2 separate regions of the Homo sapiens genome follow, and region 1 is reported to be linked to region 2. Evidence: microRNA targets listed by miRTarBase, many of them from high-throughput screens and not tested one by one. Region 2 holds a microRNA gene; the other region holds the end of a gene's coding sequence.

What was found. Region 2 holds the annotated microRNA hsa-miR-4642 (AUGGCAUCGUCCCCUGGUGGCU, at 3,056-3,077, opposite strand). A microRNA usually pairs through its seed, bases 2 to 8, with sites in the 3' UTR of a target mRNA and lowers its output. Matches are read on the target gene's strand: a 7mer-m8 pairs with bases 2 to 8, a 7mer-A1 pairs with bases 2 to 7 and ends in A, and an 8mer does both.
Region 1: the mRNA of CRAMP1 is a reported target of hsa-miR-4642. Seed matches in the 3' UTR shown: 8mer at 5,007-5,014.

Annotation. Positions count from the first base shown.
Region 1 is chr16:1,671,271-1,681,073 of GRCh38, reverse strand. CRAMP1 (cramped chromatin regulator 1) reads right to left here. Exons shown (of 21, transcript NM_020825.4): 21 at 3,166-7,193. The coding sequence ends at 7,029. JPT2 (Jupiter microtubule associated homolog 2) reads right to left here and starts at 2,795. Exons shown (of 5, transcript NM_144570.3): 1 at 2,718-2,795. The coding sequence starts at 2,761. RefSeq lists silencers at 2,379-2,738, 2,769-3,168 and an enhancer at 2,303-2,938.
Region 2 is chr6:44,428,924-44,438,726 of GRCh38, reverse strand. MIR4642 (microRNA 4642) reads right to left here and starts at 3,086; the gene lies at 3,005-3,086. CDC5L (cell division cycle 5 like) reads right to left here. Exons shown (of 16, transcript NM_001253.4): 14 at 8,817-9,014.

The DNA.
Region 1 (9,803 bases), not on the chromosome of region 2:
TGCTTCCCAATTATTTTTTGCCTTTTGTGGTACCCCTTCCATATATTTCAGTGAAGATATTCAAAACACACAAGAGAAACTCAAGCGCACAGGAGAAGAAAAACCTCACACAGCTGGAGTGGACTGCAGCACTGGAGAGGTAGGGAAAAGCTGTGTGACCCTCCTCGGGGGTCTCCATGCTCCTGACCCTCTCTAATAGTTTGTCCCCGAGTTTCAGAAAGGATGAGGGGACTGGTCAGGCTTAGAGAGAAGCAGTGAGAAATAAACTTGGATTAAATTCCTTACAAATAGAAATGTTCCAGCTTGAAGGAAGACCTCAGGTTAATCGCGGCTAAAGCATAACGCTTTTACGAAACCCCTTTAACACAAGACAATCCCTCAGCAAGGAAAGGAGAGATGTGAGGTCTCAGGAGAGGAAAACCTGGCTAGGTAATCTTACAGCCACCACCTGACTCGCTTCACAGCAAAACTAAATGTGACGCTTACAAGGCGCCCGCCCTGCGACTCGACCCCGTTCAGATGAGTGGCAAATGTGCAGCGTCTGGTGGACCCCAAGCAGAAGCTTCCAGTGATACCTCATCATCCAGTTCAGACCGGCTTTCCTTCCTCACCATCCTAAAAGGAAGAGTTTTCTCCCTTTCTCAACACCTTGTCCAGAAACCAGTCCCCCAGGGTAGTGTGAGTATGACTTTAGTGCGGCCCTGTGCAGCTAACTTCTGGAGCGTGAAAGTCAATATAAAAACATCGGCGTCGCTCAGGGTGATAATAAACACCATCATTTACCGGGCAGCCAGTGCCAGGCAGCACAAACAAAAAGGAAACGTACTAAATGCACACAACTGGGACAGGGCTGGGGATGCAGTCCCTCCCCCCACTGATGTGGGTGGTGCAAAACTCTGGCCACCAGGAACCAGAAACCGGATTCGCTCTGAGCACTAGTTTAAACTCCTGGTCCCACATCGGTGCAGACCTAGGCATAATAATCACTGTTCCATGGATGAAGGGCTGTTTCTTTGAGACGGAGTCTTGCTCTGTCATCCAGGCTGGAGTGCAGTGGTGTGATCTCGGCTCACTGCAAGCTCCGCCTCCCGGGTTCACACCATTCTCCTGCCTCAGCCTCTCAAGGAACTGGGACTACAGGCACCCGCCACCCCACACCCGGCTAATTTTTTCGTATTTTTAGTAGAGACGGGGTTTCACCGTGTTGGCCAGGATGGTCTCGATCTCCTGATCTCGTGGTCCACCTGCCTCGGCCTCCCCAAGTGCCGGGATTACAGCCGTTGAGTCACTGCACCCTGCCACGGGTAATTATTTGGTTACAAGTATTACTGAATACTGACCTAACTCCCTCAAATCTAAAGGGTTTTTTTTTTTTTTGAGACGGAGTCTTGCTCTGTCGTACAGGCTGGAGTGCAGTGGCATTATCTTGGCTCGCTGCCACCTCTGCCTCTGGGTTCAAGTGATTCTCCTGTCTCAGCCTCTCCAAGTAGCTGGGACTACAGGCACACACCACCACGCCTGGCTAATTTTTGCATTTTTAGTAGAGACGGGGGTTTCACCATGTTGGCCAGGCTGGTCTCGAACTCTTGACCTCACGTGACTCGCCCACCTCAGCCTCCCAAAGTGCCGTGATTACAGGTGTGAGCCACCACGCCCGGCCAATCTAAAGGGTTTTTATTTTTAGCAAGTTGGAGCAATTCTTTTACTTAGTATTTATTCAATATAGTATTTGTCTTCACTTGATCATAGCCAAAAGGCTGAGAAGCAATATAGTATTGGTCTTAACAGTCATGGCACACATATTCTCTTCTACTTCTCTGGCGAGGCTGTGCCACAGAGGGGCTCATCATACAGAAAACCTCAGGCATCTGAAGACCCAAACTTCACAATGCAAGTTTACTGCTCAAGTGGCACGAAAGACCTTGTAAGCTCTGTCCCTCTAATTCATGCGAGTCCCAATACCCAAAGAGTGCTTTAAAAGTTCAAAAACATAAGAAAAGTGTGCTCAGTGTTCCTGGCTATTAAAGCTGAGTCAGGATATCTTCGTCCCAATCCACTTCTTCCTACAGCGAAGCCCAGGAGCGCCATCCACCTTCCCAGGAGATAGAACTGACTCTTCCCCAGACGCCCTGGCACTTTCCAAAGGAAGTGGACTCACATGAACTAGTGGAAGCGCGGCCATGGGCAGGGCACAGGCCACACACACACCAGGGACACGGGCACACGGCCACACGCACAGGAGCGGGGGCATGGCCAGACACCCCCCACGAACACATCGCCGCACACCCCTTAGGGACACCCCCCCGGGAACATGGACACGCATCCCACAGACAAAATGGGCCGCACCCACGGGCACACCCCGCCCCCAGGAAACCCCCCACGGAACGCACCACACGGAACGCGGGCGCCCAGGCGCGAGGGAGCGCAGCCCGCCCTCCACACAGCTTTGTTCCCAGAGCCCGGGCGCCCCTCCCCGCCCTCGGCCTCGGTCGCGGGCAGCTCTCCACAGCCCGGGCCTCAGCGAGCGGCCCCTCGGGCTTCGGGCCTCGGTCTGGCGGCGGCGCAGAAAGGCGGGCGGCGGCCCCGAGGGCCTCTGTGAGGTCGCCCTGCCCCCCAACCCCACCCCAACCCCACACGGCTGGTGGACGCCCTGGGCTGGCCCGCTCCCGCCACGTGGTCGCGCTATCCGCCCGCCTCCCGTGTGCCCCGCGCCGCACCTGGAGCCGGCGCGGCCGCCCTCGCTATCCGGGACCTGGAACATGTCGACCGCCGCCACCCTCAGCTCGCCGCGCGCCGTTCCCGCCCGCCCAGCGCAGGTACTCAAGGCCGCCCGCCAGCGCCCATTGGGCGCCAAGACGCCAATCATCCCTCCGCAGCCTATCTCAGCGCGGCCACCGCCCCTCACGCCCACCCCCGACGACTTAGGCTTTGAACGGTCGGCGCCGCGCCCGCAGCCGATTGGGGAAGGCGACGCCGCTCGCGGAGGTGGGAGCTCGCATTGGGCGGCGGGCCGGGCGGGCCCTGGGACGGCCGCGCCCTCGGGAGGAAGCCCGGTCTGCGGGAGCCCGCGAGCCGACCGCGGGGCCGCACCTGGGCCGCACCTGCCCGACCAGGGACTGCGGGCATGGGCGCGCGGCCCTGAAGAACAGGCACAAACGACAGTCCTTAGATCAACATTAGTATGTATTTATGCACAATAAAAACATTTACAAGTTGAACTGGAAATTTAAACAGAAGTTTAACAGCTCTTATTATATTAAATAACCAAAACACCTTTTATTCCCAAAATTGGTAAAGAATAAATAATATAATTTACAATATGGTACAAAAAATAACCAGGAAAGGCAGGCATTCTGCTTTATACATACACTGTATATGCATATTTATAATCTATAAAACAAATTCATATCTGAAACGAGCGGAGGCCTCGCTATGGCTTAACCGAGTAAGAGAGAGAAGGGGAGCGGGGCGCGGGAGGCAGGGCCAGGGGCTGGGCTCCCCACACCTCACCCACCCCAAGGACACGCAGCCACTGTGACATCAGGAGAGCGCTGACAGCCGCGAAGGGTGTGCTGTGGGTTTTTTTCCTTCGTTGTAAATTACTCTTTCCTTGCTTTCTTTTTTTAACTTGAGACCCAGTTTCGCTCTTCTTGCCCAGGCTGGAGTGCACTGGCGCGATCTCGACTCACTGCAACCTCCGCCGCTGAGGTTCAAGTGATTCTCCTACCTCAAGTCTCCTCAGTAGCTGGGATTATGGGCATGCGCCACCACGCCCGGCTAATTCTGTACTTTTAGTAGAGACAGGGTCTCTCCATGTTAGTCAGGGTGGTCTCATACTCCCCACCTCAGGTGATCCGCCCGCCTCGGCCTCCCAAAGTGCTGGGATTACAGGCGTGAGCCACTGCGCCCGGCCTCCTTCCTTGTTTTCTTAAGACAAAGTGCTGTATTTCCTGACAAATGCATCGGCTAGAGCTCAAGGTTTAAAGAGAAAACACAACTGTCTTCCTCCTCCCTCATTCCCGGTGTCTTATGCCCCACAACTTTCTTTGCAGAAGAAATTTTGAATTCAATGCTGTGATCTAATTAAAGATGCTATTAAACTAAAAAGGTTATCCACCAGAAATGAGGCCACGGCCTCTCATGCCCAGAACCTGGAGGTGCGGCAAAGCAAGGAGGCCAACCGCGGAAACGCCGCCAACACCCCACTCCCTGAGCTGGCACCCTACAGCTACAAGACACAGAAGGACAAAACAGCCAGGAAGCCACGAACTAGGCATCCCCCGAGGCACGCAATGCCCGCTTATCACTGCACATCCACAACAGAATTGAGGCCAGAGGACTAACTTCCCTGGACCACAGATGCTCTGTCCCAATCTCCAGAAAAGACGAATCAACAGAAAGATCCCAGGCAACGTCAGAGGGATTCAGGAAAGCTTTTTCTAAGAAACTGATCTCATCTTAATTACAGCATGCTCAAATGCACAAAGGAAGCCACAGGCTCATACTTAGACGATCACCGCTTCTGTTGGAAAGGCAGAAGATGCAGGAAGTCTCTGTTTGGATCTTTTGAAAATTCCAGCCTTTAACAGTTGCCTATGTTTGCACATAAATATTCATTTAGGCCAGAAGAAAATGTATCCATTGTTTTTCTGCAACAAATGACACCATTTTCCCTTAATGTGGCAAGCAAATGCGTATCACCTGTCTAGTTACTAGAGAAGCAGAATCCTCTAGAACTCTTGTCAGCTTTATTACAGGAGAGGAGTCAGCCCGTCCTCCTCCCTAACCCATCTCCCCACTGGATGGCAATGGCTGCAGTTGGCTGCTCCCAGGAGTCTACGCTGGAGAACCAAGTGGTAGGTGCTGTCTAAAGAGCCTACGAAAGCAGACTCTGACCTCCAAAACTTCACCCCACTGAGTTGTCAGGGGCTAACAGGTACCCTGACAGGCAGTTCACAAACCCTCCTGTCCCTGGCACAGTGCACACAGCTCAGTGCTGTTGGGACTTGGCATCTCTGGTCTAGCCTGTGGGAGTATGAGAAAGCTAGCAGTGGCCTGAACTCGGCCTGGTATCCTAACCCTCTAGAGACGCAGCAAAGCCAGATGCCCAGAGGGAGATCTCCTTGTCTTCTCTGGCTCAATGAGATGCTAATTTTGGAAGCTGGTATACGTAGCACAAAACACAAGCTAGTGTAAAGATGCTGTAGTTCAAACACTGCTGTCTCTCTCCTAATCAAGTGGCATGTTTCTTTTTTCACCCCTAAGAGGTTTGGGACTGTTTGCTTAAGATCTCATGTCAATGTCTGAAGGAGGGAAGCCAGCTCAGGCAAGAGCTCTAAGAAAAACTCGTGAGACAAAAGAAGGAAGCTCTTGCCTGGAAGTTCACTGTCCTCTCCACGTCCTCCCAGTGGTGCAGTACACGGCCTGCCTGTGGTCTACAGTGGCTGTGGTGGGCTGGCAAGACTGCAGGACGGAGGGCGTCCACATGCTTGTCCACACCAAAGGCCTTTCCCTCCTCTTTTCACCTTCTCCATTGTGGATGGGGAGAGAAGCAGTGGAGGGGCCAGGGCTGGCCTTGAGGGCTGCAGCGTGCCACACATGTGGGGGAAGAGGAATGGTGGGGAGGAGGGAGAGTAGGTCCAAGGGGGTTAGGAAAGCACAATCAATCCCGGCTGCTGCGGGGGATGAAATGAGGCAGGAAGGGAGAGATGGCGGCACAGGCATGGCCTGCCCAACACCTCTGTAGCAGCTCCAGGCCACACTGGATGTGGATGGACGGTGACTCATGTGCCTGGAACTCCTGAGGATGAGAAGGCAAAGGGGCCCTTGTTAGCTCTGTCCTGGGGAAAGACTGGATGTTGGGCCGTCTGCAGTAGGAACGCTGGCCACCCAAGAGGGCGCAAGGAGGGAGACCACCACGAAGGCATATATTTGGTGAGGTCTGACCACATCCAGATGTCTGGGCCCTCACCTGGGTGTCCCAAATGGGAAGGAGACACAGAAGTCTCAAGGCAAAGGTATGCAAGGGACTGAACACGTATGTCAGGCACGCCCACACCAATGCCCGTGAGAGACACTTTCCCTGCAAAGGCAGGTTTGTCTCAAGTGCCAAACAGTCACACATCGAGTTTGAGAACTTATCAGGAAAGTCTTCGCTGTAATCATATTAGCGCCTAAGGGTCACCCCAGGAGGGAGAAATGACACCTTAGATCGCCTGGAAGCTTGCAAAGGGACACAGGAAGGAAACCAACTACAGAGGGGACTTTGTTCTTCCTCTTCCATGTCTCCTAATTCTTAAAACACAAGAAAAACATTTTCAACCAGCTTAGCAGGGTCCCATGTAAAGTCCACACAACCTGCATAGTACAGGACTCTTCCTGCCCCCACTCCCTGTTAAGAGTACGAACAAAACCTCTAGGGAGGGGAGGCACCAGCCCAGGGCCCCACGACTCCGCAGCAGCCCTGTGATCGGTATCCATGCTCTTGCTGCCTTGGGATGTGACACCACCAGGCATGAGCCCAGGCCACACCCAACTGTCCTGCCCGTTACAGTCCACAGAGGGCACAGCTGATGCATAGCACAGGTTTGGCAGAAAGCAAGCAGCAGGGGCTGGGGCCTCCCTGCAGAGAGGGAGATCACAGCTCCTAGTGCACAGCAACTACACCAAGGCACACATACTCCCTTGTCTCAGAAGGAAATGCCACCGGAATGTCCAACACAACAATCGAGGCAGAGCACAGGCTGAAATGGGATCATTATGCAGACCCTAACATGGGCCCAGGCGTGGTGAAGAACGGCTCTAGTACCACAGTGATTTCTAACGCTGGCCCTTGCCAAGAACTCATCCTAGTCTCCTTGGACGCCGTTGCCTGCTGCTCGTGGGGAAGCAGCTCTGTGACCACGTTCCTGCCCGTTGCACAGTCTTGGGTGCGGAGATGCCTCTGTTCAGACCATCTTCTGGGGCTGCTGGGCTTATCTATTTTTCTCTAGCTCGAAGAGGGCTTCATCCGCCACCAGGACGTGTGGTCACTGGGACAGGTCACTGACAGCGGGGCCGCCTCCACCACCATCAAACAGAGCTTCTCGGCGGCCAGGCTCAGCGATGGACAGCTCTTGGGCCAGGTCATTGAACCGAGAAATGTAATCAATGCTGTTTTCGTTCATCATGCACACCAGCTGGGAATCCACAACCTGCAGGAAGAGGAGACAGGAAGAACAAGTCACCGCGACCTGCTGGCCCTTCAGTGGAGGGCGGGTCCTGAAACAGGACGAGAAGCTCCTATCGACTCCCGCTGCAGGAAGCTAAGCTAGGGATGGCAGCCCAGGGCTCTGTGCAGAATCACAATCACCTGTCGTCTGCCCGCACACTCTTTAGATAAGTGCTCGCAGAGAGCCTATGATGTGCCTGGCACATCTGATGGCTGGGGTGAGGGTGCTGGTCCCCCCGCCCGCCATGAGACCTATGGGGGAAGACACCCAACAGGTAGACAGACTGTATGCAGCAGACACAGGCACTGGGGGCAGCCTGCAGAAACAGATGCAGAGTGAGGGGACAGAGAGTGCCGGGAAAAGGAGGCCAGAGAGGGTGCTCCAAGGACTGGGACCTGAGCGGGAGGTGGGGTAAAACCCGAGGATACGTGGGGGACACGTTTCCATCATAGACATGAGGACAGGTGGGGGACACATTCCCATCATAGACATGAGGACAGGTGGGGGACACGTTCCCGTCACAGACATGAGGACAGGTGGGGGACACGTTCCTGTCATAGACATGAGGACAGGTGGGGGACACGTTCCCGTCAAGAGACATGAGGACAGGTGGGGGGCACGTTCCCATCACAGACATGAGGACAGGTGGGGGACACGTTCCCATCATAGACATGAGGACAGGTGGGGGACACGTTCCCGTCATAGACATGAGGACAGCTGGGGGCACGTTCCCATCAGAGACATGAGGAGAGCTGGGGGCACGTTCCCGTCAGAGAAATGAGGACAGGTGGAGGGCACGATCCCGTCAGAATCCCAAGGACATGTGGTGAGGGCACGTTCCCATCAGTCCTGAGGACATGTGGGGAGCACGTTCCCGTCAGAGACATGAGGACACATGGGGAGTACGTTCCTTTTTAAAGAAGCAACAGGCATGTTCCCTGAGACAGGAAGAGGCTTTGACTGAAAAGCACGACCAAGGTGGTGGCCATGACAGAGTGAGTGAGGCAGCACAGAGCTGAGGAGACGGAGGACGGGAGGGCCTCGGCACCGGGATCTTGTCCCATGAGCAAATACGTAGAATGTGCCGTTTTCAGCGCTTATTGTCTGCGTCCTGCTCTAGAGTAGAAGCCTCATGAGGACAGGGGCCATTGTTTGCACACAGCAGACCCTGCAGAAATATCCCTTAATGAACTGCATGACACTGTGAATGCAAGAAGTCTGGAAAATTCTGAATAGAGCTATGGCGTAAATGAAATTTTATGCTTTGATTATGGGAAATGTCAGACAAATTAAAATTTGTTTTCAAAAGCAGAGCAAAGAGTAATTCTCCTTCCCCTGTATGTCCATCAGCAGCTCCCACCCGTTTCATCCCAGGGCCACCCAGCTCCACCCCCGCCCCCTTCATGCTAGCCCTACCACCAGACCCTTTCATCCACAAATGCCTCAGCCCATCCTTCCAGATGACGAGGACCTGCTGAGAAACATACTCACGTTCTGAGTGGAGGGCTCTCGGGAAAATCTCATGCTAAACGCTGATCTGCTCTTTCTGAAGGTGAACACGTTTGCATTACTCGCGACGGGCAGCGTTTCACAAATACTAACTGCACCCTTTCTCTGCTACTCACTCCCAAGTGCCATCTGTTGCCCAGGATTTTATTAAAGGTGCAAATTCTGATTGGGGTGAGGCTAACACTCTGGATTTCTGACTCCAAGGGGCTCCTGTCACTGGGCTGTGGCCCGTCCTTTCAACAGCATGGCGTGAGCATGCTGCCTCAGGGCACGTACGCAGCGCCCATCTCCACAGAGCCCAGCACTTAGGAACATGCGCACAAACAGGGGAAGAGACAGAGACTGGCTTCTCGGGAAACATCAGAGTCCAAGGTGTGCCCTGAATAATGATTCTGGGGCCAAACAGGTTTGAGAAACGCCACACACTGTGAGATGGAGGTCTACGCTATTAATTGTGTCTATGTGTATATTTGGCTAAAATTTCCAGTCATATCATGGCTTGGCTTGGAATTCTCCAAAGCCTGCCCATGAGTTCATCATCTCAAGAGTCACGATTCACATTCGGATACTGGGTAGCGGAGGTGTCCGTGAGAAACAGCTGTTTTGAGCTTTTTTGGATCCAGGGTGTCCCTCAAGTATCTACCCACAAAATCCTCAAGGAACACCTGCCAATGTCTCAACATTGTGGGGACTAGATTCGGGGAATGCTGCTCCAGGACTTTCACATGGGCTAAGCCCATGCGGATGATCTCCTGGACCTGGAGTTCCCTCCCTGTCCATAGAGCCCTCACCCGACTGCCCACACACCTGCCACTCTGCACTTTACGTCACAGTGAAACGGGCCTGTCTTCACCCTGCAAGCCTGACCTGCCCACGAATGCCACACAAACCATGTGGTGGACGCCTTGAGGGCTACAACCAGATGGCCTGGCCAACAAAGAGGGACGCTGCATCTCGTCAAAAGTGGAGAGTCACAAACCACGTTTCGCCTTCCCCTCAAGAACCTGCCCCAGTGACTCCTCCTATCACTACCCTGGGCGTGGGAGAAGCATGAGGACAGCAGAGCCCATCCCAGTTCCCCTG
Region 2 (9,803 bases):
AAGTTCTAGAAAGGCAGTAGTGGGATGGAGTTAGAGTTTAAAAAAAAAAAAAAAAAAAAAAGACAAAACTTCCACCACATAAATTTTACAACACCATCAAGGAAAGAAGACAATAATTTGTACTCACTCTCTTCCACTTCAAATATTTCTGGAGTATGTCTTTTTACGCCAGTGGTTTTCAACCACAGCTAAACTTCAGAATTGCCAGTGGAGTTTTTAAAATCTACCAGCACCAGTGCCCTAACTCCAGAGACTCTGATTTAAATGGTCTCAGATCTTTGTGTCCTTAAAAACTCCCAAATGATTCTAACAGGCAATTAGGATGTCAAACTCTGTTTCAGCCAGAGTCATTACACAAGCTAGGTATCAGTTGTTTTCTCAACTATATCTACCAAAAAGTCCTCATTTCCAATAAGATATGAACAACTAAATCCATCAAGTTACATTCAAGTTCCTTCTTCTATAATTTAACATGTTCAGCCAGGCAACAGTGGTTCACACCTGTAATCCTAGCACTTTGGGAGGCCAAGGCAGGTGGATCGCTTGAGCCCAGGAGTTCGAGACCAACCTGGACAATAGAGTGAAACACTGTCTCTCAAAAAATACAAAAATTAGCCAGACATAGTGGCACATGCCTGTGGTTCCAGCTACTTGGGAGACTGAGGCGGGAATCACCCAAGCCTGAGAGGTTGGAGGCAGCAGTGAGCCATGATCGCGCCACTGCACTCCAGCCTGGTCAACAGAGAAAGACCCTGTCTCCAAAAAAGTAAAACAATTCAGCATGTTCTAAGAATACCCATTATTACATACTCCAATCACATTTGGATTCAAACACACATTCCAAAACCTTAACAGCAAAGAATTTCAAATTAATACATATAATGCTTTTTAAAAATTAATCATACGAATTAACATTTTCATTGATAACTCAGCTATACACTATGCTCCATGGATAGTCCATTTCCAGTTTGGTTTTACAGCATAATACCTATACTCAGAAACTGCTTAATTAGTCATCAAGGTACGTTTAGTATTATCAGTACCCTGTATCTTGGAATTACCTCACCTCATCCAATGGAGTCATTTCTTATACTCAAACCATCAGAGATTTTAAAACTTCAAAGTTGTTAGCTTTCCTTTAATGCCAACAATTTTATTTCATTTAGCTCAAGCTTTGCAAGTCTTCTGGCTCAAATATTGCGCTAAGGTTCCAAGCAAATATGGACATAAATTGTACAAAAATTAACTTAAGCACAGAAAAAAATTAATTTAGCCAAATAACTATATAGTCATTAAACATATAAAGAAGAAATGGACTACAGCTTTTAATATTCAAGTTGAACTTAGTTATCTTACGCCTGTCATTTGATTATTAAAACACAAAGGAGGGTATCTGCATGCTTTGTAAAATGCTCAACCTATGACTGCTCAATATGCTTTAAGAGGAAAAATCCTAACCTACAGTTTCTGGTCTTTTTCAAGCCAATAAACCTCAAGCATGAAATGTACATGCATACAGGGACAGGACTAGCTTAAATCAGCCCAGCTCCTCCCAACACCCATCCACACACAGAAACAACACTGAGGTACAAGAGAGTATAAAACTTTATTTCCTAAAATTCAAAGAAAAAGGGAAAATCAGACTCAGATTTAACCAGTCAGATTTCTAAATTAATTTTTTAAAACAAGCACTAGCAACTGCCCTGATGGACACCTTACTTTAGAAGCCACCACACTGTGCTTTAAATATGTACTGACAAAAAATTTCTAATAGTCTTAAATAAAATGAAGTTCACTATCACTGATAGGAATTTAAAGTAGACCGACACTTGATACAATTAAAGCTGACTTGATCAAATATGAAAGGGTAAACTTCAATTCAAAGCAGGAAATTAAGAATATATCCACATACAAATCGGTAGGAAGGCCAAGCTGACAAATTTCACGCACCGTAATTCTATTTCATAATACGGTATCTAAAATTTGCTTCAAAATAATAGTGGAAGGGGGGATAACAGGGGAAACAAGAGTGGCTATGATTGATGACTGTCATAGCTGGGTGAGAATACATGAGGATTTATTATACCAGTATACTCTGGGGTACATTTGAAAATTCTTATAAGATTTTTTAAAAGTCAAATTCAATATTGTATCTACTCTAAAGGCTACTTTCTCAAGACCATACACCACAAATCATGAAACATCAATGTAGTGAAATATAATGAGACATTAAAATTTACAAATATGTCAACTATTTCAACACACCAAAATGTATACATGAAATGTTAGATTAAAATCCACGATGTAAAATCTATTTACGCTAACCAAAATCTGAGTTTTAAGCTTCACTCAGTACAACAATCTCTCTCCTAAAATCAGCCCATGTCTAAAACTTCAGACATTCCTCAAAATTTACAGAATATAAAAACTTAGCCACCCGATTGTTTAAAGTGAGGTTAGTTCCTAATACCTCATAGTATCAAACCAAGTATAATCCAATTTAGGTAACTCTAAGGGTGATATAGACTTGAAGACACATGGGAGGAGAATTCCCATTTACTAACACCTGCTATTTGCTAATCATACAGTATCTCATTTAATCTTATATTATCTCAAACTCATGCTTCCATCAAATAAAAACAATTACTCGGCTGGGCACGGTGGCTCACACCTGTAATCCCAGCACTTTGGGAGGCCAAGGTGGGTGGATCACTTGAGGTCAGGAGTTCAAGACCAGCCTGACCCATGGTGAAACCCGTCTCTACTAAAATACAAAAATTAGCCGAGCGTGGTGGCAGGCACCTGTAATCTCAGCTACTTGGGAGGCTGAGGCAAGAGAATTGCTTGAACCCTGGAGGCAGAGGTTGCAGCGAGCCAAGATCGTGCCATTGCACTCAGCCTGGGCAACAGGAACAAAATTCCATCTCAAAAAAAAAAAACAAAAACTATTACTCACCCAATTTTACAGATAAGGAAATGTGAGACCCAGAGAGGTTAAGTAGGGCACAACTGCTGGCATCATCACTGAGTGGCTTTGTGGCTTGCCCTAGGCCACAGCCACCAGGGGACGATGCCATGCAGTTGTGCCCTATTTGAAAGTCCAATACACTGGTCACACCACTGCTAATAAACTGACTGTCCCCCTCCTTGGCTCAGCCCCCTGAAATGCAAACATGCCTGAAAAAATTTAAGCTGTGGAAATGAATGGCTTAAATTTCACCAGACAGCTCCCTGAAAAATAAATTATTCTAGACACATGTAAACAAGAAATAAGACCTTAATTAGCAATTCTGCCCATCATTCTTACCCTGATTTAGACTCTCACCTACATGTACCCACTTATAAGAATTTTGACACCTGAGAAAAGCTTTTACTTTCCTCAGTTTGTATTTTAAAATTCTAAATTCTTTTATTAACAAGCTATAAAACTATAAGAAAACAAATATCTCTCAAAAAAATTATACAGAAAAAAAGGTTCCACTTACCACCTTTTTAGAAGTAGGGTGGAATATAACTAGTGTTTAATCATATTTACAACTATTAAATGAAAAATGTAGAATATGATCCCAGTTTAGTTTTAAACACCTTCATCCAAACATTTAAAAAAAAAAAAAAGATATATGGGAGTATGTGGGGGCAGGGGGGGCGGGGTGCATATATACACCACAATGTTTAAGGTGATTATGTCTGGATAGTAGGTTCCTTTTCTTATGTTTTCTACTTCTTTTAAAACTTCTACAAAGCACAGGTATTATTTATAGAAAGACGCCTAGAAATGTTATTTTTTTAAATGCATAGAAGAGAAACTGTCTAAAAAAGACTGGCCAGAGACCAATGGAAAACTGATGGTCCCCAGGAGATGAATCAGTGGAACCATAAGTGTTTCCTCGGGTCATTACAAAAGGGAGCTGTATGGGACTTATGAAAGTGTAACTGTTACTTTCAAGCTAAGTTTGTTAAGGTTACTAAGCTTAAGTAATTCCAAAATAAACACATTATCCTTGGGTCTCCAATACTGTCTTCAGTAAAAGTCCGTTACAGTGAGGTTCAGAAACATTAAGAGCACCCCTCACTGAAACTCTTGCTTGGGGGCCCAGAATATAACCTTATACCACTGGAAAAACAGGTTTAAGGATACCCAAAATAAACAGGCAGTCAATGGGAGCTCCACTTCCCAGTCCATCAATCAGCAATATGATCCCATATAATAGTCAAGATGTGGTTCAATCACCAAAACATTTGCAAACAACAGGAGTCTATGAGTGATTCTCCTTTAATCTCTATACCAATTACCAGCATTTTTATCAGTGAACCTTCTCTACTCTGATGAGACGCAGGTCCAAGAAAGTAATTATTGTTTGCATCTATGAGTTAGCAACCATCAGATTGCATCCCTGAAAAGCATGCTAACCAGGAAGGCAAAACCTTACTAAAAACCTTTATAAGGACAGTAATACATGAACAAAGCAATACAAGAGCACTGTACATCTGCATACATTAGGAAGTGAAATACGTAAACTGCATAAAACAAATTCAATTCATGTTGAGGCATAACAGAAGCAACCTGGTTGTATCAGGATGTCTGTTCCAGCTCATAAAGTTCTTACCAGAGACAACTACGAAATCTGTCAGTGCCTATAAGGGTCATAGCAAAGAACAGAATTTGGGAAAGAGAGAGTATTCCAAAGTACTGTGAATTCCTCTCCTGTACCACAAGTCACTTCCCCCACCTCTACACAAGGCAACATAAGCATAAACCTGCTGATATCTGACAACATATAGCACTCTACCCAGAACTGTCTACTAACTAAATCCTTGCCCTAAGTTTTCCCTCTTTAAAGTATTAAGGAAATTTTTTCCTGTGTAAAAATATCTGACTTTATAATGAAAATCACTGAGAAAATGAGATCTACTGTGCAGCCAATTTTGCAGAAATATAACCTTCAGACAAGTCAGGGGTCCTCATAAGAGCTACAAGTACACTGAGAAGGATTTTAAGTGTGTTATCTGTGTTCTTTAAGTTACTTTACTTCTAAGAAGTCTATGTTATATAATATTTCTTGACTACAGTTGACTGTGCCAGTAAATTACAGGGAGAAGTAGTATTACTTCTGGACCTATTTTCTATCTCTAAGGAAAGCCTTTCCATTTTTACAGCTAACGTGACAAAATCCACTTTTCAGCCAAACTTCCTCAACACAGCAGTTTAGATACTATTTCAAATACTATTAAATTTAACGGCATGCCTAAATTCAGACTTCTCATTTCACTTTTGCACCCACTGGAAATTATTTCACTCAAAATAATTATGTCTTCAGATGATTTCCTATTTCCACTTAAAGTAGAAACAAATTAGAACACTTAAAATTCTATTTGCACTTCCCAAATACAGTAATGACTCATTTATCTGGCATCATCAGAAAACGAGGTTCTCCACACATTAAGCATTTTCCAGGTAACTGAAGCCCACAAACACAGAGAACTTGTCTGCCTTGTTCCTTGCTGTTATCCCCAGGACCTAGAACAGTATCCAGTACGTGGTAGATAGGCAGTAATAATTACTGAATGTGTGAATAAATAAAAGTACTAAAGCTCTTTTATTTTTAACCATTTGTGAAAATGTTTCCTACACTGAATTATAGCCATCCCGCCCTTTTAAAAAAACATGACACTGAAAAGAAATAAAGTTTTTCTTATTAATTTGGGATACCACTATAAATAGCAATCACTTTACTCCCCTGCAATGTATCTTAGTGTCTTTAAAGCTATTAAAATACACTGGGCTTTTTGCCACCATGTAAAAATGGACACAGCATGGTATGCTCTCATAACTTTTCCTTTCCTTATATTAACTGTCATTGCTGTGTTTGCTCTTGCTGTCTTATTTTACACACAAAAGTCTGGCAAGGTTCTAAACTCAATTCTGCCTCCAAAGCAGAATAAAATACATGGACTTGGTTACAATTCAGAAGTCTTTTCCACTTATTTCTGACCTGTAACTGCATTCTGATTCTATTTATTTAACAAACTCCTTGCACACACACATCCTCTACCACATTCTACATAAAATCTGAGATGGTTCTATTAGTTTTAAATGAGTATCTTAAGGATTTTCACTTAAGTGCTAAGTTTCAAATATTAATCATGAGTAATGAATGGCTCAAAGACTACCTCCAATATAAACCTCAGGGCATTTTTTTTTTTTAATCCATTCAGGAGACACCAGCCACGACAAAGCTGGACTTCATCTTGCTTGATAGGCAGTGATAGGGCCATAATTTAGATTCACGGTTCCAAAGTTCATGGCAGCAAAAATCAAACACACTGGCAGCCATGGCATACAGTGCTTACAGAGAAGGGCTTATCTCCTGAACCTAAGAGTGGAAAGGATAATTTAAGTATAGCATTTAGTTTATACAATATAACTGGAGTTCCTTCCCCACAACAAACTTTGAATAATGTTTATAATTTAGCAATCAACTGAAATGAAAGAATTACCACAATTGAAATAAAATATTTATGTATTTCAAACCAATAGAACTGTGTCTTCAAAAACTAAAACAAGCTAAAAGAAACCTAGTTCTGAATTAGTGATGGATACAAATAAAATGGGGGTTTGTTTATTCAAGTCTTTGAGCTGCTTTTCTTTTTTTAAAAGATTTCATGAACTTTCATTTGAAATAAGCACAGTTTACCAAATTAAAGGACTTGATTAAGTATTCTTTAAAAGTAACTAGCTGGGTAAACAATAAAGTAAGTTATCCAAGAGTCAAGAAAAGAAAAATGACTTCAGACTGCTTTATGAATATTCTCCAAAATCACCAATCCTTCAACAAAAATAGTTCAACGGAAGATTTCAGTTCCTGGTACTGAACTGAACAAAGAGAACCACATGTTTTTAATGGTTGCTCATAAACGACCCAAATAAATCTCCAAAAGAACAGGAGTGGCTCTTTCTGTATTTTTCCCTTTAAAATTCATAAGACCAATTCAACACAGAAATAAAAATTACTGTACTTTATGGCACCACTCACTGTGTGACACATTTATTTGCTGTCATGAAAGTTAGTACCTCAACAAAGTAAATGAGATTTAGGGAGAAAAAAATTTTCTACCATTTAAAAAAGCACAAAATGTTCTTGCCATTTGCGGCAAAAAGAGTTTACCCACCTCAAATGAGAAGATTTTCATACTAAGTAAGAAACCTAAGTATTTATATATAAATAATACAAAGAAGCTTTCCAAATAGCTTTTCAATCAGTGATGATGCTGATATTAGATCACAATTACACTGCTAACTACCATTTATAAGAAATGAAGCCTACACAACAAAAAAATGTAACTTACAATTTAACCACTGATGTTCTATTTTCCCTGGCTTTAACACTGAACCACAACACAGAGCAACAGCACACCCTGCTGGAAGTTGGTAATACAAATAATTAGCAGCACTGAACTAAGATTTTACCCAAGATGAGAATTACTTCAGAACCAGTCATTTCTCACTGAGAAAAAAAGAGGTTCACAGGCATTAACCATCAGCTACCTATATATATGTGATCTTAATGGTTAAATTAAAACTCAGAATAACTCAAATTAAAAGATACTGCTTTTTCCTGCTCATTTCCTCAGCCCCATACAGCCCCAACCACCCCAAGTGATTTTACTACTTCTGGCTTTAACCCTAAATAAAAATATTTTCAAATGCACTTTTTGTAAAGAGAAACTGGTAATCACATAAAAGAGGAAACCAAGACGATTTTCTGTATATGACTGCCTGAAGTACCCCTTCTCTCCCATCCCACCTTGGCCTTAGAAATGCCCCTAAAGATTACCATTAAAAATGCACAAGGCATAGCCGGGCATGGTGGCTCACGCCTGTAATCCCAGCACTTTGGGAGGCTGAGATGGGTGGATCACGAGGTCAAGAGATCAAGACCATCCTGGCCAACATGGTGAAACTCTGTCTCTACTAAAAATACAAAAATTAACTGGGCGTGGTGGGGCGTGCCTGTAGTCCCAGCTACTAGGGAGGCTGAGGCAGGAGAATCGCTTGAAACCAGGAGGTAGAGGTTGGAGTGAGCCAAGATTGCACCACTGCACTGCAGCCTGGCAACAGACTGAGACTAGGTCTCAAAAAAAAAAAAAAAGAATGCACAAGGCAGCCTGGTGGTCTGTGAACCACAATTTACATGCCATTGGCAAAATGCCTACACAGATTCTGGAATTCAAAATATGCAAACTATATTAAGAAACCACATGTCCTGAAACTGCATCTAGTATGTTTTCAACATTTTCACAGACATGAAAAATCATGGAAGCCACTAACTAGATAATCCAGCTCTGCCCTCCCTAACTCAAACTCACAGTAATCCAAGGATGAACAGAATTGTATTTAAGTTTTGTAAATGTACTCTCTTTGTTATAAAAAGAAAACTCCTCGTTACTGCTGAGATTCCTCTTCAGAGAAAACAGGCTATGCTAGCAATGACCTGCCTGTTCTGAGTGACTAGTATTGGCTTCTTGGCTCCTTGCTCCCACATCTAAAGGTTCTGATTGACCTCTGGTCAACTTGCAGGGCACTCTTTAGTCATGAAGGCCAACAATTCTTTAAAAAAAAAACAAAAACAAAACAAACAAAAAAAAACAATGAACAAGGCCAAGAAGATCCAACACTTAAGTGTAGTTTTCTCCAACAACTAAAAAGGCAATAAGCACCTCAGGTGTGTTTTTCTGACATTGTCTCCAGTGGCATTATTTAGTTCATTATCTCAATCAAAGTACATTTAAAATTAAAATTTTAAAAGGATACCAACCTCGAGCCTCTTTTCAAGTGATTCAATTCTGTCCTTTTTACTAGCCAGATTGGCCCGTGTGTAGCGGCTCTGCCCAGGAAGATATAAAACTTGACTGTAGCATTCTTCCCACACCTGGTTATAAGCTTCACTTGAGAGCTCTCCATGGCTCATTCCTTGTTTAACCACTTCCATCTCCTGCACCAAAACATCCTGGGCCTGTTTACAATAATAATTTCAATAAGTTTAAGTACTACAAACACTTGCCATATCCAGAGAGCTTTAGAAGACTAATTTTTTCCCTCATGCCTTGAGTCAAATCCAAGATGTGGTTGGTTGTTTTTTGGAAGGGTGGATAACAATACCTAGGAAAAATAGCTTAAGAAGCCTTTGAGTCAATGCAGACTGCTTTTTAAAAATCAAGCATCCATGTTTCCTCAAAAGTATAAACATCCTTTGCTTTCACTCACTATAACAGCAGCTATCATTTCTCAGGTACCTATTGTGTGTGTGAGAAACTAGGTTTAAAAGTTTTACCTACATTATATCCAAAGATCATAATCACCTTACAAATTAGCCAATATTAACCTCATTTAAAAGCTAATGAAATTTGGCCAGGCACGGTGGCTCCCTCCTATGATCCCAGCACTTCGGGAGGCTGAGGTGGGCGGATAACGAGGCCAGGAGTTCAAGACTAGCCTGGTTAACACAGCAAAACCTCGTGTCTACTAAAAATGTAAAAATTAGTAGGACGTAGTGGCACATGCCTGTAATCCTAGCTACTCAGGAGGCTGAGGCACAAGAATCCCTTGAACCCAGGAGGTGGAGGCTGCAGTGAGCTGGGATCGTGCCACTGCACCCCAGCCTGTGCAACAGAGTGAGACTCAGTCTCAAAAAAAAAAAAAAAAAAAAAAAAGCTAATGAAACTAAGGCTCATAGAGATTCAACCACTTGTTAAGACCACATCGTTAGTAGGCAGATGAGGCAGAATACAAATGGCACCACTGG